Linked DNA regions of Homo sapiens: region 1 is linked to region 2. A link means that fine-mapping ties the variant in region 2 to the expression of a gene that starts in the linked region. Tissue or cell type: whole blood. Region 2 holds a variant in brackets; the other region holds the start of a gene. All regions are shown on one strand. Distances are from middle to middle.

Region 1 (10,962 bases), 24 kb before region 2:
ATCAGTCTGATTGTTAGGTAAAAAATATAAACATTAAACAGACATTTAATTTGTGTCTGCTTAAGATTATATTAATTTGAGATCTCACTCACATATGCTTAAATGCATGGAAAACTTCTGAAAAGAGGTGCAAGAAACTTAACAAAGGTTACCTCTGGGGAATCAAATTGAGTGTTCAGAGCCAGAGAAGGAAAAGTACTTTTAATTTTCTACCTTTTGATAGTATTCTAACATTTTTAAAGCATGTAATATCTTCAAGCTATTTAAAATTTTTTTTAAAAAAGCCACTCATGTTCAAGGGAATGAGTGGCTAAAATCAGGGTCAGACCTTTATAAGTTTGCTAAATGCAGCTTGGTGTCTAGGATTGTTTTATTTTCCACACATTTGAACTTTTCTTAATAAACATTTGAACAAATATTTAGAACTATTGAACACCAAGCACTATGCTAGGAGTTGAGTATGTATCTATGAGCAGGATAACATGGTCCTTACCTTCAAGGAGCTCACAGATCCCGGCAAGAAAACAGTATACTTGCAACGTAAGTCAGTAATAACTGACTCTCATTGAATCCATGAGGCACTCTGTCAAGTCATTTATTACATATGCTGTCTTGGTTCCAGTTACAATCCAATTGTGTTTCCCTCAGGATACCTTCAGAATTTAGGTATCACAATATTTTTAGTTATTTCTGCAGATTTTTCTCACTGACATAGTGGTTTTTTGGTTTGGGGTTTGTTTGTTTGTTTGAGACAGAGTCTCACTTTGTCACTGTCACCCAGGCTGGAGTGCAGTGGGGCTATCTCAGTTCACTGCAACCTCTGCCTCCTAGGCTCAAGCAATCCTCCCACCTCAGCCTCCAGTGTAGCTGGGAACACAGGGTACAAGCCACCATGCCTGGCTAATTTCTGTATTTTTTTTGTAGGGACAGGGTTTTGCCATGTTGCCCAGTCTGGTCTCAAACTCCTGAGCTCAAGTGATCCACTCACCTTGGCCTCCCAAAGTGCTGGGATTACAGGCATGAGCCACCATGCCTGGCTGACATAGTGTTTTGATTCTTACCGTTGTTATTCCCCTAGCCACAGAACACTAGGATACTGACATACCAATCCCTTCATGCTGGGAGGGGCTGGATGCACTCTAGGGTGGATGGAGCCCCCAAAGAAGTGGCCTTCCTTGGGGAGCCTCTTGCATTTGCCCCGGTGTGCTAAATACACAGACTCACTTTCTGTGTCATGATGTGACAAAGTTTGGGAAGCTCTATTAGAATAGACTTAATTCAGTATATTGGGGAGTATATTGATGTTGAACTCATATACTATCCACCCATGTTTTTTCACACTTCTCAAGAGAGCGAAATGAATGGGTAAAACAATATTTATAGAGTAAATTTCATTTTTGTTTATCACCTTTAGTTCCTATCAAAAGAATCAGCAAAAATCAAGAGGGGTTTAGGGCAAAAGTTGCTGATGTGTTGGAGCTCACCTTGGGTGCATAGTTCTCTGCCTACACTTCGTGGCATCTGAAGTATCTGTAGCTTCCTTCTCTGCTGTCCCTCACTGCCACTTCCAAGCTTGGTCCAAGGTAAGCTGTGGACTCTGAAGAGTGTGTGTGAGTTTGGGGAGTGGGGGCGGGGCATGGAGGTAGAAACACCCCTGGTGGGGGCAACCCGAAACTGGTAAGTTCCCTGCCCCTGCATCTTCCTGAGAGATGATTCAGAGGTGTTTCACATGGCTTCTCAGAGGGTCCCCACTGGAATGCACCTCGGTTGCCCACAGCAGAGACCTGCTCAGTTGCACGCCCTTGACTGGCATCTCCTCTTGCCCAGCTCCCTTTCCCTCTTCCTCACCTGTGTTTCCTGGGATGATCTCTCACATAAACCACCTGCGCTCACGTTCTTTCCCTGCTTTTATAGGCACCTAAACTAAAAGAACAGGAAATGATTTTTTCATCCCCCAATATTTTAATTTAAAAAATGTCAAATTGTATATATTTAAAGTATACAACATGATGTTTTGATATACTTACACATAGTGAAATGGTTACTATAGTCAAGCAAATTAAAATATCCATCATCTCACCAAAGTGTCTGTTGATGGATGAATTTTAGTTTTAAATAATGAGAAAAAAGTGTATTTCACACACATAGATGATACATGAAGGTTGTTCAGAGTAACTATATTTGTGTCCGTAATAAGATACATTTATATCTTATGGTAAGGACAAAATAATTATCTATAATAATATTTGTGTCTTCTTATACAGATCACAATTAATACAGAGATTAGTTATCATGTGGTTTTTATGACACAAATATTTTATGCTTATTTTTAACCTGATAATTGCTTCTTAAGATTAAGCCAGGCTGGGCATGGTAGCTTGTGCCTGTAATCCCAGCACTTTTGGAGGCTGAATCAGGAGGTTCACTTGAGCCCAGGAGCTCGAGACCAGACTGGGCAACATACAAAGACCCTGTCTCTAAAAAAAATACAAAAAATTAGCAGGGCACAGTGGCATGTGCCTGTAGTCCCAGCTTCTTGGGAGCCTGAGGTGGGAGGATCACTTAAGCCCAGGAGTTTCAGACCAGCCAGGGCAACACAGTGAGACTCCATCTCTACAAAAAACAAAAAAAAGGGATTAAGCCAAATTTAGTCCAGGAAGCTTCTGACTGGGACAAACACAAACTGGAAGGTCCATGGGGGCTCTGGGGCTCCTCGGAGTCTCTCTAAGCCTCTCTGGTACATACCTGGAATCTTGTCACCTGGTGCATAGGAAGTCCTGTGGGTGTGGATGGTGATGTGGTGGCTGTCCTGGTGCTGAGGCTGGGCTTGGATGTGCTTGGGCTGCATGTCATCACAGGCCACCGTGCTGGCACCATGGGAAAAGGCAGATGAGCAGGAAGCCAGGCAGAGGGTGGTACAAGCCCAGCCCACGAGGGCAGCCTGCATCCTCATCCTGCCCTCTCCTGTATCATGACAAACAGCAGCTTCAGTCCAGACGTTATTTAGGAAAACGACATAAAGTCTTCTCGGGATGTGACTAACCTGAACCCCACACTGCCTCTGTACCTGAGATGCTTTTAGTGCAGCCTCCCAGGATTGCTAATGTTCAAGGCCAAGATCAAAAGGAAATGCCAGGCTATAGGAAGTGTTTCATTTCCAAACACCTTTTTAAAAACTTCTGTTCTTGTAATTTTCTCATAAGACCAGACTGCTTTTTTTGTTGTTGTTCAAAAGAGAGGCTTTAATTATTGAGTCAAAGAAATAAAACCAGAAAATGTTTGTATCCTAGCGTGAGCTCCTTGCAAGCTGACTGGTACCCAAAGGCGGTGTGGCCTCTGATACATTATCTGAAGTAGACACTCAATACACCACCATGGTCAGGCAGCATGGCATGGGATGGCTTGGCTGAGCATCTTATCTCTGTTGCAATTGAAAATTACCAAGTTAAGTGCTACAAAACATCTACCAACTATCAATTATTTAGAAGTGACTGTTAAGCTGGCAATGCTTTGATATCTCTTTGCCCTTTCTTTGGCTGTTTTTAGCTATTTCACTACTTTTAGTAAAGAAGATGAGCAGAGAAAGAAATACTCAATTTATTCTATAACTTCTTAAACATACTGATAACAATTTTGGCTCAGGAATAGAATACAATGATTGAATAAAATAGCATTTATAGAGTAAATTTTATTTTTGTTTACTACCTCTAATTCCCATCAAGAGGAAGAATTAAAATTTGGCAATGTAAAAGAAGATGACAAAAATAAAATGAGAGATAGCAAACAAGGCAGATGAAAATCTGCCTACATAAATATTTAGGATTATCACAGGCATTTTTTAACAGTTCTGTTTTAGGCCAGGTGCGGTGGCTCACGCCTGTAATCCTAGCACTTTGGGAGGCCGAGGCAGGTGGATTGCGTGAGCACAGGAGTTCAAGACCAGCCTGGGCAATACGGTGAAACCCTGTCTTTACTAAAATACAAAAAATTAGCTGGGTGTGGTGGCATGTGCCTATAGTCCCAGCTACTCGGGAGGCTGAGGCAGGAGAATTGCTTGAACCTGGGAGACCAAGGTTGCAGTGAGCTGAGATCATGCCATTGCACTCCAGCCTGGGCAAAAGAGCGAGACTCTATCTCAAAAAAAAAAAAAAAAGTTCTGTTTTTTTTTTTATAGTCCTGCACACAGGCATTTTAGAAGTTTGGCTAATTTTTTGACCTAAGGAACAATGCAAGGCAAAAAAAAAAAAAAAAAAATGCCCTCCCCTGTAGTCAGCTGGTTTTAAAAGGTGAAAATAAAATCCTGAAAATGTAGTAAAACTAGCTATCAGAACAATAGACTAAGGAAATAATCCATAAACCAAATAATCAAGTGTCCTCCACTCCCATTGTCTCTTCACACAACACCACCTTTTACATTCACAAGCTAAAAGAAGACAGGAATATGATCTATACCTCAAATTTCTTAGACATAAGAGTCCTTCAGACAATGCCTTTCTTTTCTAAGTTTGTTTTCTATGAAGCACCAAAGTCACACATCTCCATACTACAAGGAACCATGGCTACAGCTTCTCAGACACATTAGGAGATAATGAAGATGAACTGTGTAAAAGCACATTCTCAGTCAAGGGGGCTCAGGGTTCTTCTCATTTTCTTTCATAAGGGCCACATACAAAATGCCCCTTGAATGCTGGGCATGGTGGTGCGCACCTATAGTTCCAGTTGCTCAGGAGGCTGAGGCAGGAGGATCACTTGAATCCAGGAGGTCGAGGCTGCAGTGAGTTATGATCACATCACTACACTCCAGCCTGGGTACAGAGCAAGACCCTGTCTCTTAAAAGAAAAGAAAGAAATGAAATGAAAATGCTCCTCAAGTCCTTGCTGATGGCAAGTGGTCTTTCCAAAGGCAGATCAGACACAGTTGCCTACAAGGGAAGGGGAGTGAGTGCCTGGACTCACAGACTACGGCCACAGCCCCACCTCCCACCCTCCTGCCTTAGGTTTCACTGTGTCTTCTTTCCCACTAGCATCTTGTCTACCTGAACCCTGAAAACTATCCACTTGGAGCTGAGCATGGTGGCTCACACCCGTAATCCCAGCACTTTGGGAGGCCGAGGCAGGAAGATCACTTGAAGCCAGAAGTTCAAAACCAGCCTGCGCATCACAGGGAGACCTTGTCTCTACAAAAATAAATAAATAAAAACATCCACTTACCTAGGAACACAGTTTTCTTCAGGCTTGATAGAATGGCTTCCTCCCGCAGAGTTGCAAACACATCCCTTAAACATAAGTATTTTCTTCTCCTTTCAGTTTTTCCTCTAATGGGGAGAATAACAGCTGCTACCACTAATCCTCAGCATCTCCAGGAACTGTTCCTCAGTGTCCAAATCCAACCTAAATCGTATTAGCACACACATACACACACACACACACACACACACACACACACGGTTTACAGTCACATCATTGTTCAAGCCTGCGTGAAGAACTAGAAAGAACCGGAACTGGTTTTGCACAGGACTGGCACTGACATCCTTGGCAGAAGCTGGATGCCTCCATCTTGATCTCCCTGCAAAGGGGAGAATGTTTGAATGAAATGCATCTCAGCATTCTTGGCTTCTTGAGTCAGTGTGGACTGAAGTTACTCTTGGTGAAATAGAATTGATACGTTAGCCCAAGAGCAACGTTTGGTACAAAAAAATAACACGTGGCATAGGCACCTCCCGTATCAATTGCACTAAAGCTGGAGTTCACATTTTCATTCATCTAAGAATCTGCTGAGACACCTGATAATACCAGAGAGCCTATAGATCAGTGTTCCTCAATGTGTGGTCCCTAGAGTGCAACACCAGCATCACCTAGAAGCTTGCAACATTAACAATGAAGAAAAAGAGAGAGGAATGGATTTGGGAGATCAGGAGATCAGGTGGAGGTAGGATTTGGTGGCTGTTTGAATGCAAGGCGTCCAAGAGAGAATCCTAGGATTGATAGTCCTGGGTGATGTGGAGTAGGGGGCTGCAGAGAGAGCAATGTTCTGACTGTTAGGCCTTGTCTCCACTCAGAAAAAACTAAAGCTATGAGTGACTGAATAGGCAAGGCACTGGCTTAGGGACCAGGTTGCTAAGCCTTTTGTTGCAAGTGTAAATGAGACTATCTATCCTATAAACACCAAGGGAAATTGGGCTTCCTTGGCCTAGGATACCAGTATTCCCCACACACAGAACAAAAGCAAACAAATTCAATTTGGTTTCTCTAAGCTTCTATCCCACTAGGATTGGAGGCAATCTCAATCTCCCACTGAGTCATGAGAAATTCTGGGAGGTCTAGAAAATTAGGATACATTCCTTCCATGGCTGCTGTTATGATAGTTTTCAGAGCTCATGTGGTCACTTGAAGACTGTTAGTTGGAAGGCTTCTATGCCAAAAAGGGGCTCAGGTCTTCAGCAAGGCTGTGGCCTGGGTTCTTCCCACCCCCTCCACTGGGTCCTGACACAGATCTCTGCCCCTAGCAGGAGAGTGGCTAACCTCTTCTCCACTCCACTCTGCTCCTATCCCAGTCTTAGAGACAAAAGTGTCCCTCCTCTCCTTTTTTTTTTTACTCTCACCCCATTACCCTGGGCCACCTGGCATAATCCACCTACCACAGGTAGAGTGGTAATCTCCAACACCTCAGCTTTGCCCCTGAAACACAAACTCCCTGGATATACGGATTCTCAAAAGGCCCAACTACCAATTAGAATGAGGAGAGGAGTGCAAAGGTAGAGAGAGCGCACCTGCATGGCTCAATAAATAATCCTGCCATTTGCTCATGTAATATTTCTTGTTGAAAATCAGGAGGACACCATATCTTAGACATGGCCTTATCCTGCCTGCCACACCCACAGCCTCTGCTGAGCCGGCAGCGCATCTTATGCCACTCTCCCGACAAAGCTGATTGTACCAGGGGGGCATTCATCACAGGCGAGGGCCCTGCTGACTCAGGGCTGAGACAGAAACTCTCCCTGGGAATCTGACCAAGAACACATACAAGGCTACTCTATACGAGTGCTGGCCAATAGAAATAGAATGCAAGCCACATATGTAATTTAAAATTTTCTAGGCCGGACGCAGGGGCTCACGCCTGTAATCCCAGCACTTTGGGAGGCCAAGACAGGCAGATCACCTGAGGTCAGGAGTCCAAGACCAGCCTGGCCAACATGTTGAAACCCCATCTCTACCAAAAAATACAAAAATTAGCCAGGGATGGTGGCACGTGCCTGTAATTCCAGCTACTCTGGAGGCTAAGGCAGGAAAATTGCTTGAACCTGGGAGGTGGAGGTTGCAGTGAGCTGAGATCTTGCCATTGCACTCCAGCCTGGGCGACAGAGTGAGACCCTGTCTCAAAAACAAACAAACAAAAAAATTGGACTCTCCTTATTTTTAAAAAACGTGAAAAGGAACAAAAGACATTTGTTTTAATAATAAATTTAGTCAATTCAATATATTGAAAACATTTCACATGCAATCAGCATATAAAATATCATTAGTGAGATATTTTGCATTCTTTTTTTCACAGTAAGTCTTTGATATCCAGTGGTATTTTACACTTACAGCACGTCTCAATTCAGACTAGACACATCTCAAGTGCTCCGGAGCCACATGTGGTAAGCTGCTACCATATTTATCAGCGCAGGTCTGTACAAAGGAAGGTGGTTGAGCCATAGGTCATGGTGTGGGGTCAGACCTGAGGCCGTATTGTACCACGTGCAGGATGTGTAAGAGGCATTGAGGGGACAGGATAGTAATTAAACATAACAGCATATTTATATAATGCCTGCACAGTACCACACACTATTCTAGTCAGCTAGTTGGCAAATTACCTCATCGATACAGCAACACAATGAGGTCTGCACTATTGTTATCTCATTTTATGGATAAGGAAACTGAGTCACAGTGTTTCTGTAACTTGCCAAAAGTTCCCACAGCATTCAGGAAGTGATAGATAAGGTTTTTCCCTACAGTTTTGCTATAGAATAGCTTTGTAACATAATCTACAAGATGAAGATAACTACCAGTTCCTGTACCTGCATCCCGAAGTGCTGGTGAAGTTTCAGTGAGGTAATAAATAATAAGGAGTTGGTACTTAGTATGGGGTTTGAGACAAAGGAAGGGCTCTGTACCTGTTTTGTCTGGGGAAAGAGAAAGCTGGCTGAGCCACAGAGAGGGTTGGTGCCCACCACGGAGAGGAGGCGGTGAGAGAGTGTGGCTCTGAGCCAGATCATGCGCTAAGCCCGAAGCCCGAGAGACAGCAGTGAGTTGGCCTCCAATCCCCACCCACATGAAGGAGACCCAGCTGTGTGCACCCGGAAAGCAAGAAAATACTGTGTTTTGTTTGTTTGTTGCTTTTATTTTGGGAATCTGCTTGAGGTCATTTCACACTAGCAATTTGGCTGGACTTGATATATTAACATGATTGAATCTGTTACCTTAACATCCCCTGGCCCTGAGTAGAACAGTTAATATTAACGTCATACCAAGGGAAAGTCTTGGGGTGGGTTTTATGGTTATAAATCAGATACTCTGTGTCCTTCGGTAAATCACTTAACTTCTCTGGGTTGCCTCAGGTATAAAATAAAAAGGTTTGAATTAAATAATCTCTTCTATTTCTTCCAGCAAGAAAATGATACACATTTTCAAGGTTTTATTTTAGTTATAAAGGCATAAGAATGAGCTACTCTTAAAACAGCTTGAGATGGCATGCATTAAAGTCTGGCACGTAATTATAACCTGCGTTGACACCATCCCACACTCACTCCTGGTTTAAGAGTCTGCCTTGGAAAAGTTTGCAAATGAAGGAGGAACCTGTTGAGCTCACTATTCTAGTCCTGTTTCCTGCTCCTTCACTCCAGCAGACAAGTGGACATTTTCTTCATTTTCAAAGATCTTGGAGATGAAGATAATGGCTTTTGTAACTCATGAACAGTCTTTCCTATCCAAATGTTTTTCCTACCTTGGTAATGACTTCCTGCTGAGATTGACTGGTGTTTTTACATAGAAATCTGCTATTCCAGTATCATCATTGTGATTAGCATTTTAATGTTTAGATAGATTTTTTAAAACTATCTGAAGATTTCTGGAGTGCTGGGATAATCTATGTAAGAGAAAAATACAATTCTCTTTAAACTCTACATGAAAGTGGGAAGTCAATGGTCATTCATGTACGTTTAGCAGGTCTGCTGACTTTTGCATCATCCTCCATGCTACTGTGCACTTTCTGCCATTTAAAAAAAAAAAGTTGAGTGCCTTTTTTTTTTCTTTTGAGACAAGGTCTCACTCTGTCATCCAGGCTGGAGTGCAATGGTGCAATCACAGCTCACTGCAGCCTCAACTCCCAGGCTCAGGTGATCCTCCAGCCTCAGCCTCCTGAGTAGCTGGGAATATAGGCATGTGCCACCACTCCTGGCTAATTTCTGTATTTTTTGTAGAGATAGAGTTTCACCATATTGCTTAGGCTAGTCTCAAACTCCTGTTTGGGCTCAAGCAATCCTCCTGCTTCTGCCTCCCGAAATCTTGGGATTACAGGTGTGAGCCACTGTGCCCAGCCTAGTGCTTTTATTCTACCCAATAATCCTCTCCTTCATTATCCCTGTTAAAGAACAGTACAGTCAAACAGGATTTCTAAGTTAATTAATATTTGAATTCTTACTATTTGTAAAGCAACTTGCAAGAGAGTCTGCTGATAAAGTATCGGCAGGATCTTCTCCCTAGGAACTGACATTTTACTTGGGGTGAGGTAGCAAGGTAAAGAAGAAAGAGCTCTGAAGTCAGACAGCAAACTAGTTACATGACCTTGGAAAGTTAATGCTGGTGAGCCTCAGTTTTACCATCTGCAAAATGGGGAGACTATTAGATTTCTCACAAAGGTGTTGTAAGGATTAGATGCTCTCTAGCAGTGATGCAGAGCAGTAAACAAGCTATGATCAGAAGAGAGATAAAAGCCAGGTTACCAGAGTCTGGGATGCCAGAATATTTCAAGTAGAATCAGGAAAATATGGTTGATTTTAGAGGTTAGGTGGAGTTTAGACAGATGAGATGGGTAAAAGGATATTCAAAGCAGGAGAGAGAGTTTGAACAAAGGTGTGAACACTAGCTGTGTTTGTAGTAATTATCCAGACATAAAATGAGGTGCATTTGACGCAGGATAGTGGGGACTGAGATGTTGAGAGAGTAAATGGAAGTAAGACTTGGAGACCTTTTGTATGGAGGCAAAGTGGGGATCAAAAATTGGCATTTAGGGAGTCTGGACAAGTACTATAATTTATGTCCAAAAGAGGGGAGTTGGTGGCATTCAATTTTAGTTACACTGGAAATGTACTCTGAGCATTTATTCATTCCTTCAGCCAACCTTTATTAAATGCCTACTAAGTGCAGGTCATGGGCTCTGGGCAGGGGATATAAAGATGAATAACACATAGTCTTCACTCCTCCAGGGCTGGTAAAGCAGAGCAATGCATCAGCAGATAATTGCAAAACAACGAGATTCATGATTAGAGAAATATGATCATGTATCGTTATAGCAGGACAGAAAAAGCATTACCTGGAGTTGATTAAGAGGCTCTTTTTCCCTTTTCAAAGCCTAAACATTCATATCTTGTGACTGCATGCAAAAATGAACCTCAAAGATTGGCATTGAATAATTCTGGGGACTTCTATTATACGTATATGAATGTTTTATCGTATCTTTTTAGGATCCTACACCATGTATACCCTTTATCCTTGTGTAGGCACTTGATCCCATACACCGCCCTGGATTGCAACTGATCAGCTTTAAGTGTGCCATCTTTCCTACTGACCTAGCTCTAAATCCCTGTAGGGTAGGAATTGTCTTAAAATTGCCGAGCTTGGATGCGTAGCACAGCACTATGAACATCGTAAGTTATCTGTGAAATAATGTAGCATAGACCTACGCTAAAGAAGACAAAGGAA
Region 2 (10,962 bases):
AGTTTTCTACCTTGGCCCGGTGTATAAAGGGCTGTTGGCCAACTATTGATATTTCCTGTCACACTCAAGCAGGATGATAGCAAATCACTGTCAGCAACATCATCTTTGAATGTAGAGGACAGCAGTCTGTGTGCACACTTTGGGACCTTCTTCATTCGACTACTGGTAGGATGAATCAGAAGAGAAGATTGATTTATTAATTAAATGCATGCTAGAAGAAGAAATCAATGGAGCCCACACCTATGCACTTGATCAAATAGCAGAAGGAACTGTTACTGTAGTTGCAGCGACTCACCAAGTGACCCTCGGCAAGTCACTTTAACCTCTTTGCTTCAGGTTTCCTCATGTGGAAAAAGGGACTACCTTGTTCAGTGACTACGAGAGGAGAATGTGAGGATTAGCTTAGTTGGCTAATGAAACCAAGGTGGAGGTCTGATCCTCATGAGTCTCCTCTACTGCACTCCCAGCATGGAGAAATCATCTCAGAAATCTATCTATGTCAGTGCCAGGGGGACAAGGAACAGGGTGTGAAGCAGGCTCTGCCAAGAATATCACAATTAGGAAAAAGACAAAAGCAAACTGGAGATCAGGTCCTGTTGATGGGACATCTTTGAACAAGACAGGAACACATGCACTTTCTCAGGAGGAAGATACTTGTAAAGAGTTTTGAATATACTGAAAAGGGAGAGCCATAAAAACCCACTGTATGAAAAGTGATAAGGTAAAGTTTTAGCTGTAACATGCCCTGTGCCTTTGAGACACATTTTACATGAGGCAAGTTCTGAGGTATACTAAAGACTCCATGATCATCTCCTCACAGTATGTGGATGGAACACATTTGGTTGGCTTGAGATAAAATTACCTGGTCTAATGAAAGATGGTCACCTTCTGCATTTTCTTTTAAATATAGGAATATATTAATTGGAAAATTGTAAATTAAACTGCAGCAACAAAACCAAACCAAAACAATCTATTCAGACTCAGCTTCTGAAACCATGAAGAAACCAGTTACTATTTTCTTTGGAATCTAATGAAAAATAGATTAAGACACCAAGAGCACAGGTCCCTCAACCCAAGTCTTAACAAAGAAAGAATTCTTTTTTCAATATAGTAAAAATCACACCGATGCTTTATACTTCTGAATGCTTTACTAATGATTAAGAAAATGTATAATGCAAAGGATATGGTTAACATACCATGATAGTTAACTTCATGTATCAATTTGGCTAGGCCATGGTACCCAGATATTTGGTCAAACATTACTCTAGATGTTGCTATGAAGCTATTTTTTAAAGATGAGATTAACATTTAAATAAGTAGACCTATTTAAAGTAAATAAAACAGACTACCCCCCATAATGTGGGTGGGCCTCATCCAATCAGTTGAAGGCATTAATAGGAAAACACTGACTTCCTTGGAGGAAAAGGGAGTTCTTCCAGCAGCCAGCCTTCAGACTTGAGTGGCAATTCTTCCCTGGGTCTCCAGGCTGCCAGCCTACCCTGCAGATTTTGGGCTTGCCTCCACAATTGTGGGAGCCAAGTCCTTAAAATCTCTCTATACATCCTATTGGTTCTGTTTCTCTGGAGGAACCATGACTAGTACACATCATGTGGTAGGTTACTACCACTGTTCACCAGTATTTCTGGTTGTCTCTCCTGGGTCCATGAAAGGATTATACTTTTCTGAAAACTTAAAGTAAGCCCTGACCGTGTAACTTGCTTTGCCTAATAATGGGGTAGAAGTGACACTAGCTTTAAGCAAAAGGTTTTAGGAGCCAGGGAGTGATCCTTTCTGCCCTTCCCCTGCCACAGCAGATGCTGATTCCTCAGGTTGAGATGGTGGAAACATAAGGTGCTACCTCCCTCGGCCTGGGCCCCCAGGTGACTGCAATCAGTGGAGTCCCACCTATGGGCCCCTGTGCACATGGAGCATAAGTAAGATCATTAGTTGTTTCAAACCACTGAGATTTGGGGTTTGTGACTAACACACTACTGTGGGCGGGGTATAAGGAGCCCTGTATCCCAGCAACATCCACTCTACCGTACATATTACACATTTTTAATTTTTTCATTTTTCCAAGTTCAATAAAACGTCTATTTGATATAAACACTGAATAGTGACTTGAAATACCGTATGCACATGATGGTAATAAAATTGCCTAAGATTGTTACGTAAACTTTTCATAAACTAACCTCTCCTTTAATCCAAATTATTGGTATATTGCCAAACTCACCAACATCCATCCCATTATAAAACTTGGAATAAATTAAGCCCATGTGAATTTGGACATTTGTGTAACCTAGGCATTGAAAACTAGCCTATCCCAAGTGTTTCAGTGTTTTATATTTCATGAAATTCCTGGAATATGCCTCTGCCTTTCTATCTGCTATAACTCCCAAATTACTATGAAGAAAATCCTTCAGTGCTGCAGATGAGTCAAAATGGGTCTTCAAATAAAAAAAAATCCAACATGACTGTTCAGTTAAACCACACAAAAGCTGGCTTTTCTAGGAGAAGGAAAAAAACAAAGATGGGAGGCTGAACTACCTGGGCCTGTGGGTAAACAGGGCATAGTTACGTTCAGATTTCAGAATTATCCACTCCTGAGTTTATTTGGAATTTCAAGATACGAACATACAGTTGAGATGCTCAAATCCATCTAAAATGTTCAGGTTTTTAAAAGAATTCTTACAATTTTGGCCCAATTTTTTAAAAAAAGGATGGAGGGTACCACTTTCCCCCATAAATACCCAAACCTACAAACTCAGTATGGAAGGTGCAATGTCATATTTCCTTTTTTATCTACCCCCCTAAGGTATAGCACAGTGCCTGCCTACAGCTGTCATCCAATAAATGCCAAACTGATTTCTGCCACCACATTCTGAAATCCCCACTCCCTGGCCACCTCCCGCATCTTTTAAAGGAGGGACTAACAGGTATCAGAGAGGGCTCTCTCCACTGTCCTGTCGTACATGACACATACCACTCTCACCGTCCACTCTTGCATTTTCACCCCCACTCTGGCTAATTGGACTTCAACAGTGAATCTAAGTTAGTCGGTCAACAACAGAGACACAGCTGTACTGCTGTGTACTGGTGGTACAACAGACAGCAGCGACTGGAATTAAGATAGTTGCTGGATATTCAGACCCCAGAGGTCAGGACTAACCCTGCCACTCTTAGGTGGCATCTACCTCCACAATGGTCAGGGGCAAGCTTAGCGAAGACAGGCAGAGACACTCCACTGAGCACACGGCCTCCTGAAACCAGGTCGGTGGGGAGAAAAACTGAAGGTTGTCTTCCTTTCACCAACAATTTCTTTTTGTGGAGAAAAAAAAATTATAGTTAATGCAGTTGGGCTGTGGGGAACAGCAAGGCCACAGCATGGGCTGGGATTTACCTCTGAATCTAAGAGCTAGCCAGTACTCTGGAGGATCATCTGCTCGGAGGACAAAGGTCAGTGCAATCATAGGCGTGTCTGCCCCCAGTAAGGGAACATTCTGGATCTTTGGCCTGGAATGCTGTACTGAGGTCACCCAAGAGTCAGTGATTATCAAAGACAATTTTACCCCCTAGAGGTTGCTTCTATTGTTACAGATTATTATAGCCTCCGGGGCGGTAAGCCTTACACAGCAAGTCCAATGCTGCTGCACTTTTAGACCTTAAGGAAATCCCGTAAGCATTTGTTACTATTATTAATTAAGCATAATTAAGCGCTCCTAGCATGCATTCCATATTGCCTTGAGCAGAAAGCTTCAGATGTAAACCATCTTTCAATAACATTCCCTTCCTGAATGCTGAGATGAGAACATGAAAATCATACCACATGTCTGCCATCTGTATTTGTACTTGTCAACAGCTCTGTTTTGGGATAAACAGTTTTGAAATAAGAATCAATTCGACTTGTTGGAAGATTAGCCAAGGAATAGCTCAAAGACCAAAACAGAAAATGAAGTCAGATAGTCTGAAAATCGAGCACAATTTTGTTTCTCGCTAAACATTCTGTTTTGTCACAGCCCAAGAGAAAGAGTGTGGCAGACAGGGTTTGGGGGCACACAGACAGGGAAAATGTATGTTCTCAAGTAAAAAATTCTTCAACCTGGAACAAATGTCTTCGCTACAATGCAACTAGAAATCATTCACTGACCTCTAGGAGACTACAGTTAAGAACAAAGCAATTTAAGCATTTACACTTTGTTTCATGGTTCTACTATGTGAAGGTATACACAGGGGACAACTTGAGCGGGTTCAAGTGCATAATACAGTCCTTTATTACCATAAAAATGGCAGCACTTCCCAAAGTTGATCTTGATTAAAAGTAGTTCCATGGTTGAAAACAGTACTCCACTGTAGAGCTATTAAACTAGAGAGATGGCAAGGGGAAAATAAAGACTTATATATCAAAGGCGAGGTCAGGGAAGAAGTTAGAAAAAACAGGACGCTACAGATTAGTGGGAGACTACAATGGAATTGCTTTTAGAGGTGGCTGATATAAGTGAATGAAGGGACACAATAACCTGCAGCCCCACATATTCTACAAAACAAATGAGAACATGTATGCTCCACTTGGAGAGCCATCCATTTTCTCCTTAAAAGAACTCATTTATAAAAGAGCAAATTGGTGATTTGTACTTACATACTGGACCTTTTCCAAGCCCCTGTCAAGAAGTGATAAATTATTGAAGCATAGCATAAAGTGTTTTATTTTCAGTGTGCACACGGTAAAACCCTGTGAAATGCTTCTGTTCACCTTTCCCAAGTTATTAATTAAAAAATAATTGTTTCCAATTACTCTCTGATCTTTAAAATAAACCAAGACAAAACACTACATACACCTCTCCAGAATCAGCACTGCCCCTTCCCTCTCTCCTTCTCGATCCTGCCCCCCATCCTTCAACCAAGCAGTTGTTTCGAATCACACCATCGGCTCCTGAAATAGGAATGCTATTTAGATTGGGAAGGGAGGGAAGAGGAAGTCCAATACAACATTCACACAATTGTCTGGTATTCATTCAACCACAGTGCCCAGATATATTTGTTGTTCCTAGAGACAGCGTAAAACTGTTTGGAGAATAAAGCAGGGTTGTGGAAAGCTCATTAATAAATTGTGAAAATCCTCTCAGCAGGAGTCACATAACCAGAGGAGCTGCCTTGTGCCAAGCAACATAAAGCCTGGTGCTCTGCTCCTGGACAATGTCAAAGGCAAATACAGCTGATTTTTGAGAAAGGCCTCCCTACAGCCACTTGCTAGACCAGAGTTAGGAAAAATTCTTTCCCAATCTCAGCTCGGCAATTAGAACCTGAATTATGTTTACAAACTCTAGGCTTTGCTTTAATCTGACTGTGAGAGATGTACAGGAATGGCCCCTCCCCTACTGTGTTCATAAACTGAGAGAATAACGTTGATGCCAATGCTCCTGAAAGGGAGCAGGGAAACCTAAAAAGTCTAATTGCATAAGGAGATGCAGGGGGACCACTGACAGGAGGGCTTTCTCCTCACTGAAATCTTGTTCATCTTTAGGATTTCTCCAGCACCTCAGTTCGAATTCCCACTCCTTATGTGCAAGTGGCACTCTTGGCTTTCCAATTCTGTTTTTTATTTAGGTGACTCAATCAGTGGCTGAACTTCTGATCCTGTGGCCCCTTTTTGTAGCTTCAGACTGAAACTGGATGCCTTTGTAGAACATATTCACGCAAGGATTCTGTATGAACAGAAAAGGATGCAATAAAGGAGGATTCCTCCAAAATGTTTTAATTATATGTCCATACAATATATAAAATATATGCATCATTTTAGCTGGATAAGAAAAGCAAGTCAAATGAAATGACACTTCTCGAAACTTAAGTTAAATAATCTTGTAGGAAGAGGTATATTTTGTCTTTTTTTAATTATTTTAGCATTCTGTACACTGACAACGAGGTAAAAGAAAATGACTGAAACTTACAAGTGAAAGAACATTTCACAATTAAATCCACAATTGTATACATTTATCTTACTCACA[T/C]GTCAGTGAAAAATCACCAACTATTATAAAAAGAGGACAAATTGTATCACAAAAGAAGCAAAAATTAGAAAAAATTCATAAAAAAATATATCCAACTATGAAAAGCGTTGCTCTCTTGGTGTCTTCACATCCGTCTCTTCTGTGTACTGATGTACAACACTGAAAAGAAAAAAATACATAAATTGAAATTTAAAAAACCCTGCTTGTAAGTATACATAGTAGCAAGTTTAAAAGCCAACAGATTTTGGTCTGATACATCTGACATTTAAAAGGAATTCTCGTATCATTCAATTAACTCTAGAAGTACTGTAAGACTAGTTTTATGAATCTACACCCAGGTTTGATGTCTTACAAAACTGTCCTAATTTCATCCATGTGTCTCACTGACTCTTTAAAGTGTGACCAGGAAGATAAAATAAAATATATGTGAAAGTCCCTGGTATCTAAGAATGCTTTATAGTTAGAAGTATAAGAATTATGCTTTTCAGGGCTGAACACGGTGGCTCACGCCTGCAATCTTAGCACTTTGGGAGGCTGAAGCGGGTGGATCACTTGAGCTCAGAAGTTTGAGACCAGCCTGGGCAACATGGTGAAACCCCGTTTCTACCAAAAATACAAAAAATTAACCAGGCATGGTGGTATATGCACTTGTAGTCCCAGCGACTTAGAACGCTGAGGTGGGAGGACTGCTTGAGCTTGGGAGGCAGAGGCTGCAGTGAGCTGAGATTGCACAACTACACTCCAGCCTGGGCCACAGAGCGAGACTTCATCTCAGGAAAAAAAAAAAAAAAAAAAGATGCTTTTCAGAAAGTAAATCAGTAAATCTAACCAGGCTAGATCTCAAATTAAGAATAAACAACATATTTTCATCTGTCTCCCCAATACAAACTCTAAACTTGCTGTTTACCTTCTTAAATGCAACAGGATAAACAAGAGCTAAGGAGTTTATTTTTTATTTTTATTTTTTAATGATACCAAAGTCCTTATTCTGAGTTCCCGTTAAAAGTCTCATACTTTGGTGTTACCTAATGTTCTGCTTAGTGGTCTTCTCATGACTACCAACATGAACTCGTAGGATGTGTGGTCCGTAGGAATGAAACAAAATGAAATGCTTGGGTCACTTTGGCCAAACTAGAGGTGGTTCTCCCTTCCACCTTCCATGCCTACTCGGCTTCTGAGAGGTCTGCTCAAAGCGAACAGTAAGGTGTCTTCATCAAAGAACATAGCACAGATGAATCAAATAAGTCAAGATCCTCTTTAAGAGCCAATGATGTGAACTTGGGAGTCTAAAGATGAGTGTCACTGATTACATCATGGGAAATGTGACATGAAGGGAAGCATCAGAATGCCAGTACAGCCGCCCCCCAACCCTGCCCCCCAAGTCCTAGGGGTAGTGTGCACGTTAAAGGATCTACCCTATCAACACGCACAGAACCCAACCTGCCAGTGACTGCTGCCATTAGCTGTCTTGAGGTGAGACAAGATCATAACATTTCTTAGGAAAAAGAGGAGGTCAAATAAGGATATGAAAAATAGGATAAATAATTCTATAAATAGAAAGGACTAGAAAGCCAGGAAATAATGTATGTAAAAATATGATATGAAGAAATAAGGTCCTGTAAGCATAGGGGACAGACTCTTATTATAAAAGTCAGGAAGTTTAGTTTATAGCAAAGAGATCCAACTATTTAGGGGGTTGAAGACATCCAGAATTAAAGAAATCAACAAAAAATCTGAACTCAAGAATCCCAGAGTTTCTGGGAGATGGAACCAAAAAGTGGGGTAATTCTCATAATTCTGATATCTTTCCCTCCCCACCAAAAATACAAATATGACTTTATTATAATTTTCATTTTTAAACTAGGTACTTAAAAATAACTATAAAAATCATAGCAATTTATTAGTTGTTAAAAACTGAGTAACTTTTTCTATTTTGCCATTTTTGCCAAACTGAAGGATGCAAATCTGCATAGAAAGCATCTGAATGTTTAATAGAGAAGGGACAAATAGGACGAACTGCCAAATTATGCAAATCAAAGACAGCAGGGAAACGGTGCCCATTCTTACATCTCCAACTTCCAGGCTACAAGAAGCAGGAATATGTGTTGGGGAGATATACTACACTATATTCGAGAAAGCAGGGTTCCAGGTAAGGAGAACAATGTCCCTCAGTTCCTCATCACTAAAGGAAGGGAAGGAGAGAATTTTGGTTTCAAAATTCCATGAAGCATCTACAAAATAACTGGTCAAACTGAAGATCTGACATATAAGCATTTTAAAATAATCAAGCCTAAAAGTGGACTTTTAAATTATCTAGAAACCTCTTTGGTGATCTGGATTATAAATAGAAAGGCTTATTTTGAATGCTGTACTGTAGGGCGAAGAAATGTTACCATTGTTTCCTCGGATAAATGCATCCCCATACTTATTCTTCAGTTGTCCATTTACATATTCTTCTGTCTGCTCCAGGGCTATATTCATGTAGCCATCCAGGCAAGCCAGGACCCCTGCAGACATATTTAGTCAAAAAGAAGATACACAAGGCAAATAAGAGTTGAAAATTACAGGGTATACCTTAGAGCAGACAATCTCTTTATTCATTAGTTCTTAGATGCTTAATATAAAAATTCACACCATAAATGAAACTCAACAGCTTAAGCACAAAACAACTCTATGCCAATCTGAATGAAGTCTAGGAAGGCAGTCACGCACCCACTACTACCCGGTAAAACAACAAACTGTCACTTCCCTCATGGTACGTATGACCACACAGAAACTTTTAAAGCATTCAAAAAAGTAAGAGAATAAGACTATTCCGGCAAAAATACCATTCTTTGAAAGCTAAGCACAAGGTGGGCAATTATGCATAAACAAATGATCCTTGGTTCCAGTGGCATTTCCTACTTTAGCCACTAAGTGAAATACGGGTCTGGCAGATTTATTTCATTCTTTTACAACATCTATTGCAGCAGATGAATGTACTCCAGGGTTAAAAGGAAGTCTCCACAATCTGTTAAAATAATAGAAGAGGAGACAGCAGGTGCTCCCGAAAGAACATCTTAAAGCTGTGACTCACAGTGAAGAGCAGCTTGAGAATATAGGGCAACATATTGCATTATAACACATCTTGTTCTGTTTTGTTACAGCTATAATATTTTCCAATCAAAACTAATAGAGAAAATGGCCAAAAACATTCGAGGGAGCTTTCAAGGAAACAGTTTGAGTCAATCTTTAATTGTGTTAAGATGGTATAAATTTTGTAAAATTTGACCTGATGATCTTTTTCAAAAGATGAAAATCTGTAAGCCTCTAATTCTGTCTCTAATTTAAAGTGGTATTTCCTAGAAAAAAAAATTTAAGTAAAAACAAATACTAGATTCAATTCAGTCGAGTCTATAGTTTCTCATTTGATGTCTTAACTTCATTAATATGCTCCTCACTCTCTGCCTCTGCCCCCATTATCCTCTAAACAAAAAAGTTTCCTTTCAAAATTGTGTAATGACAGCAAAAGACATTAATCTACCAGAATTCTGCTAAAAGCGGTAAACTCTCAAAGAACGAGAATGGACTGTGAATAATAAAATTATTTCCTAGCAAAAGAAAGCTTAAGCTACAACTTTAGCTCGTTTCCTGCTGTACTATTTTACATACAAACTGCAATTATAAATGAGCAAGAAAAATCTGAGGCACAATATGCAAACCTGTTTGAAAACCAATGAAAAGAATTTCAAAATGAAATGTCCAGGCTGGGCAAAGTGGCTCATGCCTGTAATCCCAGTACTTTGGGAGGTAGAAGCTGGCAGATCACTTGAGGTCAGGAGTTCAAGATCAGCCTGGCTAACATGGCGAAACCCCGTCTCTACTAAAAATACAAAAATTAGCCAGGCATGGTGGCAGGTGCCTGTAATCCCAGCTACTTGGGAGGCTGAGGCAGGAGAATCGTCTGAACTTGGGAGGCGGAGGTTGCAGTGAGCCAAGACTGAGCCACTGCACTCCAGCCTGGGCGAAAGAGTGAGACTCGGTCTCAAAAAAGAAAAAAGAAAAAAAAAAAAGAGTTCACTTCTAATTAAAATATCTATTCTCACAGCAAAGGCAAAAACAAACAAACAAACAAACAAGCAACAACAACAACAAAAAAACTGCCCAGGGGGTTAGAAATACAACCCTTTCCTTCCATGAGATAAACTACTATACAAAACCAAAAACAAGACATTTTCTCAAAGAGAAACTGCTACAGAGAGTTGCTGGAGTTTTTCTTTTTTTTTTTTTTTTGGTATGTTGTTGTTTTGCTTTGGGGTTTTTTGGGGTTTTGTAAACCACAAAATAAGCACGTTCCTTTAGTAAGGCTATCTAATAGTATAAAACATTTTGCTTTAATAGTATAAAGGCCATTCATAAGAGGAAAAAAAATTATGGTTACTATCCATGTGAAAGACTCCTGAATCTCACTAGTAAACAAAGAAAATATATGTAGAATGAGATATTACTTGTTGCCAATTAGATTGGAAAAGATGAAAAAAAGCTAATACAAGAGTTGGTGAGAACATGAAGGATAAACCCAAGTTCCCTGATGCAGGGCCATGGAATACTCTCTGACTTGTAAATCCTAGCCCAGGGAATTGATTCTAAAGAGATGTTTGGTCAACTTCACAATATATGTCAAAGTAGAAGAGTTGTTTATAGTGGCAAAAAACTGGTCAACACCTAAATGTCCATTAATAGGAAATTGGTTAACAGTAAAAGCAAAACCATGGTACAGCCACACAAGAGATTCCTATGCAGCCATTAAACCCTCTATATTATTACAAAACTAAATGTACTGTTTCAACGTTTAAAAAAAAAATCAGGTTGCATGTAGTTGACTCCATTTATGTCAAATTATGCTAATATAGAGGTCAAAATTGGTAAACTGTCTCTGGATAGTAGCATTGGGGATCCTTGGCTTTCTTCTATATACTTT

Evidence for each region. PIP is the estimated chance that this variant, and not a neighbour inherited with it, causes the effect.
Region 1: REELD1 starts here. The variant in region 2 is fine-mapped to the expression of REELD1 in whole blood (TOPMed, PIP above 0.99).

Annotation. Positions count from the first base shown.
Region 1 is chr4:146,208,944-146,219,905 of GRCh38, reverse strand. REELD1 (reeler domain containing 1) reads right to left here and starts at 5,368. Exons shown (of 8, transcript NM_001354631.1): 1 at 5,212-5,368; 2 at 4,708-4,830; 3 at 2,746-2,964. The coding sequence starts at 2,953.
Region 2 is chr4:146,184,821-146,195,782 of GRCh38, reverse strand. LSM6 (LSM6 homolog, U6 small nuclear RNA and mRNA degradation associated) reads right to left here. Exons shown (of 4, transcript NM_007080.3): 3 at 8,396-8,509; 4 at 4,248-6,161. The coding sequence ends at 6,127. Among named protein-coding and RNA genes, the nearest start is that of LSM6, 15 kb to the right of the region's middle. The variant T/C (reference allele first, on the strand shown) is at 6,003.